Homo sapiens: one gene and its partners. The protein of the gene in region 2 interacts with the protein of the main gene of each other region in a biochemical or structural test. Each region holds a gene or a part of one and is shown on either strand. Other genes may lie near its edges.

The links. The genes of interacting proteins can lie anywhere in the genome.
Region 1: the proteins of DYRK1A (region 2) and DCAF7 form a complex in vitro, tested with the Homo sapiens proteins (2 studies listed by BioGRID).
Region 3: of the proteins of DYRK1A (region 2) and EIF2B5, one has a biochemical effect on the other in vitro, tested with the Homo sapiens proteins (one study listed by BioGRID).

The regions. Positions count from the first base shown.
Region 1 is NC_000017.11:63,574,441-63,581,476, forward strand, and holds part of DCAF7 (DDB1- and CUL4-associated factor 7), read left to right. Parts: intron 1-4,029; coding exon 4,030-4,188; intron 4,189-4,896; coding exon 4,897-5,008; intron 5,009-5,384; coding exon 5,385-5,503; intron 5,504-7,036. UniProt on the Homo sapiens protein: Involved in craniofacial development. Acts upstream of the EDN1 pathway and is required for formation of the upper jaw equivalent, the palatoquadrate. The activity required for EDN1 pathway function differs between the first and second arches.
Region 2 is NC_000021.9:37,523,771-37,526,892, reverse strand, and holds the end of DYRK1A (dual specificity tyrosine-phosphorylation-regulated kinase 1A), read right to left. Parts: 3' UTR 535-3,122; downstream 1-534. UniProt on the Homo sapiens protein: Dual-specificity kinase which possesses both serine/threonine and tyrosine kinase activities. Exhibits a substrate preference for proline at position P+1 and arginine at position P-3.
Region 3 is NC_000003.12:184,138,322-184,145,357, reverse strand, and holds the end of EIF2B5 (translation initiation factor eIF2B subunit epsilon), read right to left. Parts: intron 6,463-7,036; exon of another isoform or gene 6,434-6,462; coding exon of another isoform or gene 6,419-6,433; intron 5,279-6,418; coding exon 5,201-5,278; exon of another isoform or gene 5,143-5,200; coding exon of another isoform or gene 5,137-5,142; intron 4,941-5,136; coding exon 4,628-4,940; intron 3,434-4,627; coding exon 3,288-3,433; intron 3,122-3,287; coding exon 2,980-3,121; coding exon of another isoform or gene 2,964-2,979; intron 2,857-2,963; coding exon 2,755-2,856; intron 2,580-2,754; coding exon 2,472-2,579; intron 2,307-2,471; coding exon 2,216-2,306; intron 1,917-2,215; coding exon 1,793-1,916; intron 1,260-1,792; coding exon 1,134-1,259; intron 762-1,133; coding exon 651-761; intron 475-650; coding exon 415-474; 3' UTR 47-414; downstream 1-46. UniProt on the Homo sapiens protein: Acts as a component of the translation initiation factor 2B (eIF2B) complex, which catalyzes the exchange of GDP for GTP on eukaryotic initiation factor 2 (eIF2) gamma subunit.

The sequences.
Region 1 (7,036 bases), on a different chromosome or scaffold from region 2:
TGTTGAAAGTCTGTGGGTGCTCCATAAAATGAATATTTAGACTTAGTCATATGGATTTTTAAGAGTTAAACATGGATGACAAGATCTATGAATATATGTAGAAAAATCCTTAGGAATCTACAAAAAAGCTACTAAAACTAATAACTAATGTAGCAAAGTTATAGAAGCCAAGATTAATGTACAAAAATCAGTTGTATTTCTATATACAGTACCAATGAACAATTGGAAATGGAATTTAAAACAGTTTCATGGTCAAGCACAGTGGCTCATATGTGTAAGCCCAGCATACTGGGAGGCCAGAGTGGGTGGATCACTTGAGCCCAGGAGTTCAAGACCAGCCTGGGCAACATGGCAAAACCCTGTCTCTACAAAAAATACAAAAATTAGCTGGGTACGGTGGCTTGTACCTGTAGTCCCAGCTACTTGGGAGGCTGAGGTGGTAGGATCAATTGAGCCTAGGAGGTCAAGGCTGTAGTGAGCTGTGATTGAGCCACTACACTCCACCCTGGGTGACAAGCAAGATCCTATCTTAAAAAAAATAAAACACAATTTCATTTATAATAGCATAAAACTTGTGTAGAAATCAAGTTAATGGGCCAGGCGCAGTAGCTCATGCCAATAATCCCAGAACTCTGTCAGGCTGAGATGGGCAGATCACTTGAGGTCAGGAGTTTGAGACCAGCCTGGCCAACATGGTGAAACCCTGTCTCTACTAAAAAATACAAAAAATAAAAATTAAAATTAGCCAGGCGTGGTCACGCACGCCTATAATTCCAGCAACATGGGAGGCTGAGGCAGGAGAATTGCTTGAACCTGGGAAACGGAGGTTTCAGTAAGCGGAGATCATGCCCCTACACTCCAGCTGAGGCGACAGAGCGAGACTCAGTCTCAGAAAAAGAAATAAAGAAATAAAATTAATGAAAGAATCATAAGAAGTACACTGAAAACTTTAAAACATTGCTGAAAGAAATTAAGGCAGCCGGGCGTAGTGGTTCACGCCTGTAATATCAGCACCCTGAGAGGGCGAGACAGGCAGATCACTTGAGGCCAGGAGTTAGCGACCAGCCTAGCCGACATGGCAAAACCCCATCTCTACTAAAAATACAAAAATTGCCTGGGCGTGGTGGTGCGCACCTGTAGTCCCAGCTAAGGCATGAGAATCACTTGAACATGGGAGGCAGAGGTTGCAGTGAGCCAAGATCGTGCCACTGCACTCCAGCTTGGGTGCTAGAGCGAGACTCTGTCTGAAAAAAAAGAACTTAAAAAAGGCGTAAATTAATGGAGAAATGTGCTATGTTTATGCGTTGGAAGACTTAATATTGTAAGATGTCAGTTCTCCCCAGACTGCTCAATAGATTCAACACAATCCCAATCAGAATCTCAGCAGGCTTTTTGTAAAATTCGACAAGCTGATTGTAAAATGTACATGGAAAAGCAAAAGTAGAGAATAGCAAAACAATTTTGAAACAGAAGAACAAAGTTGGAGAACTCACTGTCTGATTTTAGAACTTACTAGAAAGCTACTATAATCAAGACAGTTTGCCTACTAGCAGACAGATAGGCAAATAAATAATGGAACAGAATAGAGTCCAGAAATAGATGAATAAATACATGGTCAACTGATTTTCAATAAAGGGGTCAAGGTAATGCAAAGGAGAAAGAATTCTCAACCAATGATGCTGGAAGAGTCAGACGTTCATATGTAAAAAAGCAAACCTTGTTCGGGAGCTGTAGCTCACGCCTGTAATCCTAGCACTTTGGGAGGCCGAGGCGTGTGGATCACCTGAGGTCAAGAGTTCGAGACTAGACTGGCCAAAATGGTGAAGACCCTTCTCTACTAAAAATATTAAAAAATTAGCCGGGCGTAGTGGCACATGCCTGTAGTCCCAGCTACTTAGGAGGCAGAGAGGTAGGAGAATTGCTTGAACCAAGGAGGTGGAGGTTGCCGTAAGCCAAGACTGTGCCCATTGCACTCCAGCCTGGGTGACAAGAGCAAAACTCCGTCTCAAAAGGAAAAACAACAACAAAAAGCAAACCTTGATTCATATCTTGTACCATATAAAAATTTAACTTGAAATGACTCAGAGACCTAAATATGAAGCCTAAAACTAGAAAACTTTTAGAAGAAAACAGGGAAAAATATTTGGGACCTGGGATTAGGCAAAGATTTCTCAACTAGGACATAAAAAATTTTTTGGGTGCGGTGCTTACGCCTGTAATCCCAGCACTTTGGGAGGCCAAGCCAGGAGGATCACTTGAGCCCAGAAGTTCGAGGCCAGCCTGGGCAACATAAGGAGACCCCATCTCTACAAAAAATTTAGAAATTAGCTGGGTGTGGTGGCACATGCCTGTGGTCCCAGCTACTCAGGAGGCTGAAGCTGGAGGATTGCTTAAGCCCAGGAGGTTGAGCCTGCAGTGAACCACGATTGCACCACTGCACTCGAACCAGTGCAACAGAGTGAGACCCTATCTCAACAACCCAAAATTATACTGCCACATTGCACATAATGCAATATTATTCAGCAGTAAGAAAAGAAGCAACTACTGATACACACAAGAACATGGATGAATCTCAAGAGCAGTGTACTGATGAAAGTAGCCAGACACAAAGACTCAAGACCATCTGATTCTATTTATATCGTATTATGGAGAGACAAAACCATAGATCAGTGGCTACTTGGGGTAGGTATGAGGGGTTGACTGCGGAGGAGCCTGGGAGAGCTTTCTGGGTTAATGGAAATGTTTTATATCTTACTGTGGGGGTTATACAACTGTACATTTGCCAAAACTCATTTAACTGTACACTTGAGTGGGTTTTATTATATGCAACTATACCTAACTTTGGGGGGAAAATGTCTGGAAGATACTGGTGTGTCTGAGACTGAGGTCAGAAAGATGAGTAGAAGGAATTTTATTTTGTGTTGTCTGGTTAGTGCTTTTCCCCTTATTGTGGATGTTTACCAAATATCCCCACTATTCCATCTTCCAGTTGGAAGTTCATAAGCAAATGTACAGTTAGTGTCCCATTGAGCCAGATTGAGTTTGACAGCAAAGATTGGAAGTTAATGGTGGGCTAAAATTGACTCTAAGAAAAAGTGATCAGAGCTAGGTGGGACTTTCTCATCAATGGCGCCGACTTTTTTTTTGCCAGTCACAGTGGTTTGGGCTCTCAAACGGTCATTTGACATACCTTTATGTGTAAACATAATGAGCCAGTGTTGAGTTTGGGGTTGGTGAGGGTTGTGCACTATTGGATTTTTAAGTGAGCATTAGTTTGTTTAATGAAATTGCAAAGGGTGTTTCATATTCCTGGCCCCTGAGCACCAAATGTCCTCAGCACTTCAGTCATTGTGGCAGCCAAGAACCACCCCTGGTCATTTTCAAATACCTTAGGGGTTTCAGGGGAAGGTGTGCCTGGCCTGGCAGATAGTGCACTTATGTAGTTGGAGTCAAGAATGCAGACTTGAGTCAGAAAACCTGTAATCTCTGTCTCCTACTGGCTTTGCAGTGTTGAGTGTAACCACCCCTTTGAGTCTGGGTGTCCTTGTCTGCCAGAGGATGGTTGGACTAGATACCCTCTCATGGCAATCGTTTTTGATTCTGCAGTTTAGTGTAGTACAGTGTCAAGACTTCTGTCACTGGCCAGGCATAGTGACTCATGTCTGTAATCCCAGCACTTTTGGGAGGCTGAGGTGGGAGGATCAGTTGAGCCCAGGAGTTCAAGGCCAGCCTGGGCAACATGTGAGGCCTTGTCTCTACAAAAAATGAACAAAATTAGCTGTGTCTGGTGGTGCATGCCTCTAACCCCAGCTACTTGAGAGGCTGAGGTGGAAGGATCACTTGAGACCAGGAGGTGGAGGCTGCACTGAGCTGTGGTTGCACCACTGCACTCCAGCCTGGGCAACAGAGCAAGATCCTGTCTTTAAAACAAAAAACAAACAAAAAAAACCTCTGTCACTGACCAGGGATCTAATGTATTTGCTGTACTGCTCACAAATGCTTATGTGGCTCAACTTTGGTATGTTACAGGTTCAGCTTGTTGGTTTAGATGAGGAGAGTTCAGAGTTTATTTGCAGAAACACCTTTGACCACCCATACCCCACCACAAAGCTCATGTGGATCCCTGACACAAAAGGCGTCTATCCAGACCTACTGGCAACAAGCGGTGACTATCTCCGTGTGTGGAGGGTAAGCGGATGCTTTATTAGCAGCCAGACAAGTGGGCTTTCTCAGCCTCAGCTGTTAGCAGTGAAAAGTCACAGAACAGACAGGGGTCAGAGGCAGCGAGTGTCATTGCAGCACAGGAGAAGCAAGCGAAGCTTAAATGGACTGGCCTCGTTTGGCTCAGCAGATTTTCTAGTATATCAAGTCAAGATTCCATGAAGTCTGGCTGCTGGCTGCAGTCAGCTCAGTCAACCCGAGGTGATGATGACGGCCTTCAGTGGAGGTGGGAATACTTGGGAACTCATATTCTGTTTGCAGCCAAGGTATTTTTGAGTAAACTAAATGAAATACCAGGCCATTGATTCTGATAAAGTGTGTGAGTGGATCTTGGAGGCTTCCCTCCACCCTCAGCTGAGCTCATCAGCAGCAGCGTCCTCTGTAGCATGGGCGTGGCCTTAGTACACCTGTGCAGAGGTTCCAGGCTGGGCAAAGTGAGAAGACCTCTCCTCTAGGAAGGTGCAGGGATGAAAATGTAGAAAACAAAGCTGGGCAGAGGAGAAAGTATGGGAAAAAGTAGCATTCAGGGAGTCCTGGGTTTATTACTGTTTTTGATAAAAATGTTTTCCCCTCATGTCTTATGTTTGCTAAGATATTTTCTAAACAGGGATTTTTTAAAAGACTTTTTATGAGGATAAGACTGGCTGATTTTTTTTAAAATTCTTGTTCCTTCAGGTTGGTGAAACAGAGACCAGGCTGGAGTGTTTGCTAAACAATAATAAGAACTCTGATTTCTGTGCTCCCCTGACCTCCTTTGACTGGAATGAGGTGGATCCTTATCTTTTAGGTAAGGGAGTTAGGGAGTATGTATTTCAGCTGGAAGAAGCCAAAATAAATTTTCTCAGATGTCACACTGGGCCATACATCCTAGAACAAGGCTCAGTGGGAAGTAGGCTAGGCGTGGAATGTGGTTATTTATTAATTCCTTTGTGTGGGTGAGCTTTCCGTGTGTATAGATCTTGTCTCTCCAGTTAGAATCTAAGGTCCTACGGTGAGGACTGAAGACTTGACTGCCTCGGTGGCTCTGCCGGTAGCCCCCACCTTGTTTTCTGTAGTCTTTATGGTATGCTGCTCCCTGGGCTGAGCAGATGAGTAAACACAAGAGGGAAGCTTGCATGAGAACCTTGGTCCCGTCAGCCCTGACTTGCACTGGTTGTTTGCAGGTACCTCAAGCATTGATACGACATGCACCATCTGGGGGCTGGAGACAGGGCAGGTGTTAGGGCGAGTGAATCTCGTGTCTGGCCACGTGAAGACCCAGCTGATCGCCCATGACAAAGAGGTAAGATGCTTTTCCATTTCGTCTTTCCTCAAATGCTTCCTGTGCCTTCCGCACAGGAAGAGGTCAGCTTGTTCTCTCATTGTTCTGCAATTTATGTAGAAAATCATAACATAACATCTTCTTGTCTAAATTGACAATAGTAATGTATCAAAAACGGGAAAACAACACTATTGTAAACTAATGCTTTTTTTTGGCTAATGTAAATGACCTATTCTACGGTCTGTCATTGTTCTTTTCATGCCAGAGGTTGCTTTTTTTAAATAACAAAGTCTCTTATAGAGGAGCTGGGAACTGATGTGATTAAAAAATAACTTTAGAGTAATACTTATCTTGAAACAGATTAGATTTGGGGAGGAAAGAAGGGAGACAGGAAGAGAAAAAATTTTCTGAGAGACAAACGTAATTATTCATTTTTCTCTATAAATGTTTTACCAAATCCTAGTATGTTCACTTAATCTTTATACTTTCATTACTGTTGGCAGTGGAGGCAATGGAATATATTTTATTTTGATGGCGATGCTTCTGTGTTTATTGGGAAAACTGAGAAGAGCTATTTGTGATTGCTTTTTTTTTTTTTTTTTTTTTTTTTTTTGAGACAAAGTTTTCCTCTTGTTGCCCAGGCTGGAGTGCAATGGCGCAATCTGGGCTCACTGCATCCTCTGCCTTCTGGGTTCAAGCAATTCTCCTGCCTCAGCTTCCGGAGTAGCTGAGATTACAGGTGCCCGCAACCACCCCTGGCTAATTTTTGTATTTTTTAGCAGAGACAGGGTTTCACCATGTTGGCCAGGATTGTCTCGAACTCTCCTGACCTCAGGTGATCCACCCACCTTGGCCTCCCAAAGTGCTGGGATTACAGGCGTGAGCCACTGCGCCCGGCCAATTGCATTTTAATCAAAGCATTCTTCTCAGTGATTTTGGAAAATCCCCATAAGTCTTTTCCTCCTACAGCCATTGCATGCTCCTGGTACTCTCATCTCCTGTGGGTACTATTTCCTGTTCTTTTCTACCTTACCCTGCACAGCTAGGGGTATTAATATCTATACAGATAAAAGGAATGCCTTGATCTTAGGTCAGAAACTTGAGGTTGTCAACAGCATAGGAAGATGTGACCCAGGTTATCATTCTTAGTAAGGGGTTGTCTTTGGCTTTCTGTACTCCTGAAGGTAAGCCCTGTTACAAGACTTCTAGAGTTGACTGCTGCTAAACCAGGGGTCAAATGAAGAGTTTGTCCCACAGAGAGGACCAGTAAGGAACTTCTGGAAACCCTCTTGGCATCAAGTTGAACAAGCGGCTACATTTTAGTTATATGACAACTTAGCCTGCTGTTGTCTGTTAGGTCCAACCCAGAAAATGGGAACTACTCTTAAGTATTTGAACTGCAGGGATTTAATCCAGGGGCTGCTTATACAGAAGATGGTAAAGCTGAGAAGCCACATAGGTAGCAGTGAGGTCATCCATAGAATGGGAGCAGCAGGAAGCTGCAGCTGCCTATAGGCCAGAGGGACCATGGGAGGAGGCAGGGTTCCTGGAGCC
Region 2 (3,122 bases):
CGCCGGTCTACCAATAAGAATTGGAAATCTTTTGGGGGAATAACATTTCCCTAATTGAGATTCAGAGCTAGTGTTGTGAATCGTCAAAACCAATTGCATATTTGCATATATTTATCTGTTAATGCTGATTTGGAATGAGATGTGACACAGTTCATCTTTGAACATGTCTTCACACAGATAGGTACCTTCCCAACACTACTATGTCCATGAGCATTTTTTTTTTTTTTTTGAGACAGGGTCTTGCTCTGTCACCCAGGCTGGAGAGCAGTGGTGTGACCTCAGCTCACTGCAACCTCTGCCTCCCAGGCTCGGATGATGCTCCCACCTCCATCTCCCAAGTAGCTGGGACCACAGGCATGTGCCACCAAGCGAGGCTAATTTTTGTACTTTTTTTTTTTTTGTAGAGACAGGGTTTCACCATGTTGCCCAGGCTGGTCTTGAACTCCTAGGCTGAAGTGATCCTCCCATTTCAGACCCCCAAAGTGCTGGGATTACAAGTGTGAGCCACTGCACCCAGCTCATGAGCATAAGATGTTTAGCTTAGCATATTTATTACATAAAACACATTTATACATTTTTATAAGATTCTATTAGACTCTATTAAATTTTTCTTTAGATAGTTGCCTTTCAACACATTAATCACTTCTCAAATGCAGATCAATGGATTCTGAAATATAAAAATTTCTTTTGGGTTTGCATTGAGGTCCCTAACACACTGCTCAAACTGTAGTTTGGGCTCAGATAATGTATCTGTGGCAAATGTGTGTGGGAATGGAGCTCTTCTTTTTTTAACTTTTAACAACATGGGAAGAGCTTAAAGCAGTAACATTAGTTGTGATTCAAACAATAGTTCTTCTTGAAATCACTTAACACAGTAGGAGTTTCACATAAACACTGTTTTTATCTTGTGGTTTAGGCTGAATTCCTTAAGAAACACTATCAAGTCTGCAGCAAAAGTGAATTTCCAAAACTATTCAGTGTTTAGTAACGGTGGTTCGGGGCAGTTCTCATTCAGAAAAATTTCAATCTTTGTCCTGAGCTCAAAACTTAAATGAAACTTTACCACTACTAAACCATTGAACTGCTGTATTACAGGCCATGTCGGGATATTCAGCTAATATTTCTGACAAAAATTCATGAGAGCTGTTGATAGTGAAGTCCACAAGAGCTAAAGGAAGTTCACTATTGACAATACTGGTTCAATAATGCATGATAGATTCAAATATTTCTCACAAAGTATCTGTTGACTTAAATAATACAATGAATAATCTATAGGCTTTAACACCTTATATTATTACAAGCTTTGTAAGTTGTCCAACTGAGCCATTTTCTATTCCACACTGATATGAGTTAGCTGTGTCCCCACCCAAATCTCATTGAATTGTAGCCCCCATAATCCCCACGTGTCATGGGTAGGACCCAGTGGGAGGTAACTGAATCATGGAGGCAGGATTTTACCATGCTGTTCTCATAATAGTGAGTAAGTCTCATGAGATCTGATGGTTTTATAAAGGGCAGTTCCCCTGCACACACTCTCTTGCTTGCCGCCACCTAAGACTTGCCTTGGCTTCTCCTTTACCTTCCACAACGATTGTGAGGCCTCCCCAACCATGCGGGACTGTGAGTCCATTAAACCTCTTTTTCTTTATAAATTACCCAGTCTCAGGCTTTTCTTTATAGCAGTATGAAAATGGACTAATACACACATATATTTCCACTACCAACAGTCATAACACATCTTAGCAGATTCCACTTCAGGGTGTACTGAATTCGTTTTCTCAACTTTTTGTTTTGAGACAATGTTCTCACTCTGTCATCCAGGCTGGAGTACAGTGGTGCAATCTCAGCTCACTGCAACCTCCACCTCCTGGGTTCAAGCGATTCTCCTGCCTCAGCCTCCTGAGTAGCTGGAATTACCAGTGCATGCCATCATGCCCGGCTAATTTTTGTACTTTTAGTAGAGATGTAGTTTCACCATGTTGGCCAGGCAGGTCTCAAACTCCTGACCTCAGGTGATCTGCCCACCTTGGCCTCCCAAAGTGTTGGGACTATAGGCATGAGCCGCCACACCTGACCAGTTTTCTCAGCTTTGAAAATACTTTTGCCAGTAGTTGTTCCACATAAGACTATTGATAGAGGCCAATTCTTCAGTTACTTCCAACTTGGTACTGGCTCCTCAAATAAAGAGCAATAGCGGAGCAGTGTGCATAACATATGGTGACCCCTGTCATGAGAGTCAGGGGAAACCACTCAAAACCATTTGCCTTTTTAGTCGACTACTGATGTCATTCCTAATGTCAACTCTTTGAGCAACTGTTGTCGTGGAAAGGCCAATAAACAAGTTTACTTTCTCTGAGCATGTTTCTTCAGCTGCAGTAATCAAGCATGATTTAATTAATTCACCATAAGTGACTTTCCTTGCTTGGCTAACAAATGAGCCATCTGAAACTTACTTTGGTTGTAGCTTCATTTTCATTTTTTATTTTTGTGAATAAATTCTGTGATGAGATATTCAATTTTAAATTTTCTAATTTTTCTGACCATTGCTTTCTTGTGAATTAGAAATATCTTGATGAGTGCTAAGATGGGAAGTAACAACATGTATTTTGGTTTTTTTTTACTTTTTGTGGAGATGGGGGGTCTCACTATACCACCCAAGCTGGTCTCCAAATCCTGGGTTCAAGTGATTCTCCCACCTCAGCCACCCAAATCGTTGGGATTACAGGCATGAGCCACTGCACCTGGTTGTATTGTGTTCCTTAGGACAGCTACCATGTCATTGCACTTTGCTGCCTAATTCAGTAACAATTCATACTCCATTGTACCTTAAAAGCACAATGATATTTGAAATCCACTTTTCTTGTATATATTGGTAATAAAAAATAAAATGTTGTAGCATGGGAATACAAGTGGCATTCAAAATGCTGCTGAGTTATAACTGTGTCACTGCAATTTACATTGCACAGAGCGGCAGGGCAAAATGATGAGAATGCCACATATTCTCATCATACGGTCTCTGCAGCAACTACTCAATTCTGCCACAGTAGCACCAAAGTGGCCGTGGACAACTTGCAAATGAATGTGGTTATGTTCCAATAAAACTTCATTTATGGACACTGAAA
Region 3 (7,036 bases), on a different chromosome or scaffold from region 2:
TCACATACTTCACTGGCTGATTAGTCAGGGATGGAGACAAACCAAATACACCACTCTCTCTTTTAATATTAACATATACAAGCAGCAGAAAGAGCCAACTGCTCTCTGCTGTTCCCTGAGGGAAAGCCGGAGCACAAAGCTGTTCCTCTGGCCTTCCTCCAACTGCCGGGCCTGCTTAGCTCCTCCCTAGGCAGAAGCTTTGTTCCAGCCCCACTTCCACATCCCAACTCCACAGTCAGGATGGGAGGCACATGGTTGCTAGCAGGGGAAAGAATACTGTAGTTCCAGCCTCTGCTCCTTTCAGTCTCAGCCTGGATGGTGGTCACTCATCCCTCTGCAGCTAGTTCCTCACTTGTCCCAGCCCAGGAGCCAGGAGGGCACTCAATCACACCCAAAGGAGCAGGCAGTGTGACTTCAGTCATCTTCAGATGACTCCTCTTCTGCCTCTTTTAGCCACTGGATGAACCTCTGCAGCTGTAAAGAAGCAGAGGAGAGATCGGCTGGGGGAGGTGCACATAACTCTCCTGCTCCCCTCGGCAGATAAACAGCTCTAACAACCAGAGCCCCAGAAACCAACCACCCTAGAGTCTAGGGGCCAGGACCTGGGAATGAGATAACCATCTTGGCGAGAGGAGGACAGCCTGACGCACCTGTTGATTCTTGCGCAACTGCTGGCCCTTGTCAGTTGTATCTCTTTGGCTGAACCAGCTCAGAATTGTTTCCTCAGCCAGGATCTCCAGCTGGTAGAAAGCCATCAGTACCTGCAAAAGGCCAATAAAGGGGACCTCAGGGGCCTTGGAAAGTCCAGCAGGATACTCTACCAGGCCCTCAGATCCCTCTATGCACTGAGTAGCCTCCTCCAAAACGGACAAGAGTGAGCTGTTCGCTCTGCTCCTGGGGCAGGTCTAACTTCTGGAACTATTGCTGGGGAGAGCTTTGCACATTTCCAGACCACCCCCCAGATGGCTACCTTATTAGTCCGGCTCCAAGCTGTACTATTCTAGCAATAAGCATATTGGGAGTGGATGGTCCATACTGGATTCACATTAGCTTCTATTTTATGTCTCCCAAGGGGGTCACCAACCCTCGTTTGAAAGCAAGTGCAGAAGAATGGGGCTTGAGGTCATATTCACCTTGGCCATGGAAATACCAAGAGCTTCATGCTCTAGGAAGAAGTCCTCAATGGCTGCTAACGCTTCCAAATGGTCGGCTGCGCGCTTTATGTAGTTCCTAAAAACAGGGCTCCAGGCCTTTAGCAGCTATGGAAGAAAGAAGGGAGCTGCAGTATATTCCTAAGCATTCACCTATACCTGGACATCCAAGCAAATCCATACTGATGACATGGGTGGACAAAAGGGAGATGATACAGGTTCTGTGGAATTATGTCAGAGGGACTTGGGAGTTGTTGACAGGGTTTGGGAAAAAGAGATTCCTTAGGGAAGGTGAAAGGGGATCAGATGCTATAGGCTGCCTCAAAATACCTATTCCCACCCCAGAGGCTGATCTTGTGTTGGGTCAAATTGCTGCCATAGAGTCTGAATGTCCAGGTCCATTCTGAATATACCTTTGTGGGCCTAGGATGGTATGAAATCCTGGAGTCTCAAAGGCCAGTCAGTATTGAACTCAATCTGACCCCTCTGAACCAGCCAAGGCTGCTCTAGAGCCCAACCAGCTTCCAGAGGCAAGGAAAAAGGAACCAGAAGTGACATACACCCAATATAACAAGACAGTCTACTCCTGATTTCCTTTGCCTGTACCCAATCCCTTGTACTCAGCTCCAATCTTTGCTCACAGGAAGCAGCAGGGCACAGTAGCGGCTTGAGTCAAGCGGGGAATCCATCTGTTGCAGGGGGAACTCCAGGACCACGTGGCTCAGTACCTGCATCACCTCCTTTAGACTTATGTTATAGGCATACCTGTGGGGAGACTGGGGTGACACCAGGGCCTTCACTGGCCTTTCAGCAGGCTTAGAACTATGACTTTGATAGACATTGGAGAGGAATCTGGATGGAACAATATGGAAGGGGAGGGTTTAGGAAGGAGAAAGTCTATGCTGAGGCTAGAACTTAATAATGCTCTCCTTGCTCCAAATACTACTGGTCTTTCCATTTGGGATGTCGAAGGAATAGGTTCCTATTTGGAGACAAAACACTTACGAGAAAGCCTCTACCTTCCCGGGATCACCCCGAGGAGAACAGGGAGGGGCTGCTCTTACTTGAGAGAGTTGATTTCCAGGACGAGATTGTCACAAGAAATGTTCTCCTCTTTGCCCCGCTGTAGTGTTCCTAAAACTTCATTCTGGAACACTGAAATCAAAGCAAGGATAAGTTCATGGGCCAACATCATTCAGAATGCTCTAAGTCATCTAGTCTTGACTCGATACCAAACCCTTTCTGAGGAACGTAAGCCTCTGGCTAGTTGATCCAGGCAGAGAATAAACTGGTCCAGCGCATTTCTCCCCTGCCACTCACCTTTGATGTCATCCATCTGAGGGGAGCCTCCCCGGCTGTCCGGCTCCTCAGAATCCATACTTTGCTCACTTTCACTTTCACTCTCTTCTTCCATGTTGATCTTGAGTCCTGAGAAGCCATAATGGGTGAGGAAAAAGAAAAAAAGAGTCATTGACAGAGAGCAATATACCTGCCCTGTCTGCCTGAATAAAGGAGTGAATAAGTAATGTGACTCTGAAGTATTCATTATCCTTCAAAATATTCCGATTCAGGAGGAGAAGGGCAGGCATCAGGCCTAGCTCACCCCACAGATTCTGCTGCAGTTCCTCCTCTTCCTCCATGTTCATGCCTGCAGCTTTCCAGAGGTAGCCCTTGCCAGCAGCTCCTACTTCTGCTGGATTGTAACCTGGAAAAGGCAATGATCTATAGAGAGGGCCCGGCGGAAGCACCAATCCCTCCAGGAGGAAACACTGGTTCTTCTATGAGGCAGCGAGACACACAGATGCCCCACACCTGTTGAGTCTCACACCTTTCATCTTCACTTTGTCCTTTTCTTGGTCAGCCCCAGAATCATCACTGAACTCGCCATCATCTTCATCTTCCTCTGCATCTGGAGGGTGCAAAGAGATCACCGAGCCCTCAGGCAGCGTGATATTTGGGCCCACGACCACCTAAGGGGAAAAAAAACACAGAACCATTAGGGTGTGGAGGAAAAGTGCATCCTGATAATGAGAGCAACTTTTTTAGACAGGATTATGGGTGGAAATAATGCCCCTTCTGGCTCAGTGTGACTGCCATGCAATTCAGGGCCTGTGCACAGTATAGATCAGGTCTCACCTGGGAAGTGAGGACAGAGCGTGGTTTCAGTGTCACTCGTTCCTTGACCTCAGCATTGTCACAAAGCAGAGACTGATGGATCTGTGCTCCAGCCGCCACTCGAACACCCTGCCACAGGTAGGTCTGGTCCAGCACCACGTTATCACCTGGCTCAGGATGGGAAGACCTCTGGGTAACTCAGGGTTCCAACCGCAGAGCAGAGCCCTTCATAGAGGACAGGGCTGACTGACACCAGCACAGCTCCCACCTAGCTCTCATTCCCCATCCCGCAAGTCACCAGAAACACCCACTCACCCCCTAAGCCCAGGCCTGAGAAGATACTTCACCAAGTTTACAACAATTATAGACTACACACAGAGCTTAAGAACCCGAGAACCTTCAGGATTTCTGGGGACCCTCTGAACTCAAAAAACCTTATTAGAATCATATCCACGCCTACAAGCAGAACCAAATAATTCCACCTCTTCTGGTACATTTTAGAAACCAAGTCTTTTTTTTCTTTTGAGACACGGTCTCATTCCATCACCCAGGCTGGAGTGCAGTAGTATGATCATGACTCACTGCACCCTCGACCTCTGGGCTCAGGTAATCCTCCTGCCTCAGCCTCCCGAATAGCTGAGATTACAGGCACGCGCCATCATGCCCAGCTAATTTTTGTATCATTTGTGGAGAAGGGGTGTCGCTATGTTGCCCAGGCTGGTCTTGAACTCCTGGGCTCAAGCGATCCTCCCACCATGGCTTCCCAGTGTGCTAGGATTACAAGCATGAGCCACCACGCTCAGCCCCTAGAATCTGAGCCTTACTGTTGTTCTTGGAAAGGGGCAGTACTATTAGACGCATCACACTCCTGCAACCAAAATGAGATACCAAGAGGCCAACCAGGCAGTTATGGTAGACTCAAAAGAACACTGGACTTACATTCAGAATACCCAGATTCAGGTCCCACCATTATTACCAATGACCTTGGGCAAGAAAATCTTGTTGAGCCTGTTTATTTGTAAATTATGAAGATTAAATGTAACAATGTATATAAAAGCCCTTTGTAAACTGTAATGTGCTAAATAGATGTTGTTACTGCATGTTAATTATCTACTTGCTCCTGAATGTGACTACAGGGTACCCTGGAATGTGAAGAGTCATCCAATGAGAGGCCCACAGGCTACAAATTAAGGTATCGCTGTTTTCAAATCCCTGTTTCCTCCTTTCCTGAGGTAGCCGCTCTATAGTTCCTTATTCCCAGGGACTGTCCCTTGTGTAGCCATCCCTTGTGTTTCTGGAGACGTGGCCCCCCCAGGTTCCTGTTCCTAGGATAGTTGGCTTGATTCCCCACCTGTGCTCACCAATGTGGCAGCCGGGGCCAATGACACTGTTGGTGATAAAGCAATTGCTGCCAATGACAGTGCCAGAGCCCAGGAGCACATTTTCCTCTAGGATGCTGCCATGGCCCAGGCTGACCTCAGGCCCTCGGTAGATGTTGTGCCGGGAATGAGTGCAGCTCTGGGTGGTGCTGTCAGTGAAGTTCGCCTCTGGGGTGAGAGGGTAGACCCATCGGCGGATGACGTCAGCACAGACAGCTGAGTACATGTGTAGGTTGGAGACACGGGCACCATATTCCTTAGCTGTTACGTGCATGTGGATCTGGTTCCCTAGGATCTGAATGAGAAGGAAAGGGAGGTCACCTAAGCAAGAAAGACAGGAAGAATGCCCCCAAGTACAACTTTTCTAATCCTTTTAAGTTCCCCTCTGCCTCTCACTGCCACAAAGATTCTTCTTTGTGTACTGTTCCTCCTGTCCCCTGCTTTTCCTCCCTCCTAAGCCTCAATAAAATACAAAAAAGATCAAAAGTTACCAGCATGAGATACAATCATAGCCTTCTCCTCTCTCCTAAAGAGGCATTGGAAGACTTTTCTCACCTCCTCATTCACTAAGAGACCTCGCACAAAGTCATCTCGAGTTTGGTAGTCAAAGTTGTCTGTAAAGAGTTGTGCCACCTGTGGAAGGGAAGTGGAGTGGGCTAGAATTAAGTACTATTCTTTTTTTTTTTTTTTTGAGACAAGTCTAGCTCTGTTGCCCAGGCTGGAGTGCAGTTGCATGATCTCGGCTCACTGCAACCTCCACCTCCTGGGTTAAAGTGATTCTTGTGCCTCAGCCTCCCAAGTAGCTGGGATTACAAGCGTCCGCCACCACGCCCAGCTAATTTTTGTATTTTTATTTTTTAGTAGAGATGGGATTTCACTGTGTTGGTCAGGCTGGTCTTGAACTCCTGACCTCATGATCCACTCACCTCGGCCTCCCAAAGTGCTGGGATTACAAGCGTGAGCCACCACGCTTGGCCAGGATTAAGTACTATTCTCTAGGAGCACAGATAATCCCCCAGAGACCTAGCAAACCCTATGACAGCTGAACATGGACCAGAATTCCAAAGAGACTCCCAGTGGGATACTGGAGACAAGATCTTTGCTTTACAATAGATTCTAAAAAAAAAAAAAAGGCCAGGTGCAGTGGCTCATGCCCGTAATGCCAGCACTTTGGGAGGCCGAGGCAGGCAGATCACCTGAGGTTGGGAGTTCGAGACCAGCCTGACCAACATGGTAAAACCTCGTCTCTACTAAAAATACAAAAATTAGCTGGGTGTGGTGGCACATGCCTGCAATCCCAGCTATTTGGGAGGCTGAGGCAGGGGAATTGCTTGAACCTGGGAGGTGGAGGTTGCAGTGAGCTGAGATCGCACCATTGCATCCAGCCTGGGCAACAAGAGTGAAACTCCGACTCAAAAAAAAAAAAAAAAAAAAAAAAAAAATGCTGGGTGCAGAGGCTCACACCTGTGATTGCAGCACTTTGGGAGGCCAAGGCGGGAGGATCACCTGAGGTCAGGAGTTAGAGACCAGCCTGGCCAATATGGTGAAACCCCATCTCTACTGAAAAATACAAAAAATAGCCGGATGTGGTGGTGCGTACCTGTAGTCCCAGCTACTTGAGAGGCTGAGGCAGGAGAATCACTGGAACCCAGGAGGTGGAGGCTGCAGTAAGCTGAGATCATGCCACTGCACTCCAGCCTGGGCGACAGAGCGAGGCTCCATCTCAAAACAACAATAACAACAACAACAACAAAAAAAACTGGTGGCTCATGCCTGTAATCCCAGCATTTTGGAAGGCTGAGGTGGTCAGATTGCTTGAGCTCAGGAGTTCGTGACCAGGCCGGACAACATGGCAAAACCCCGTCTCTACAAAAAAATACAAAAATTAGTGGTAGTGCATGCCTGTGGTTCCATCTACTCAGGAGGCTGAGGCAGGAGGTTCCCTTGAACCTGGGAGGCTGAGGCTGCAGTGAGCAGTCATGGTGCCACTGTGCTCCAGCCTGGGCCACAGAGCGAGACCCTGTCTCAAAAAATATATATAAATAAAAATGAAAATAAGGCCAGGTGTGGTGGCTCATGCCTGTAATCCCAGCACTTTGGGAGGCTGAGACAGGTAGATCACTTGAGACCAGGAGTTCGAGACCAGCCTGGCCAACATGGTGAAACCCCATCTCTACTAAAAATACAAAAATTAGCCAGGCATGGTGGTGTGCCTGTAATCCCTGCTACTCAGGAGGCTGAGGCAGGAGAATCACTTGAACCTAGGAGGCAGAGTCTGCAGTGAGCTGGGATCACACCACTGCACTCCAGCCTGGGCAACAGAGCGAGACTCTGTCTCAAAAAATAAAAGTAAAAATAATGAAAATAAACAGGGAGAAGAAATATACCCTG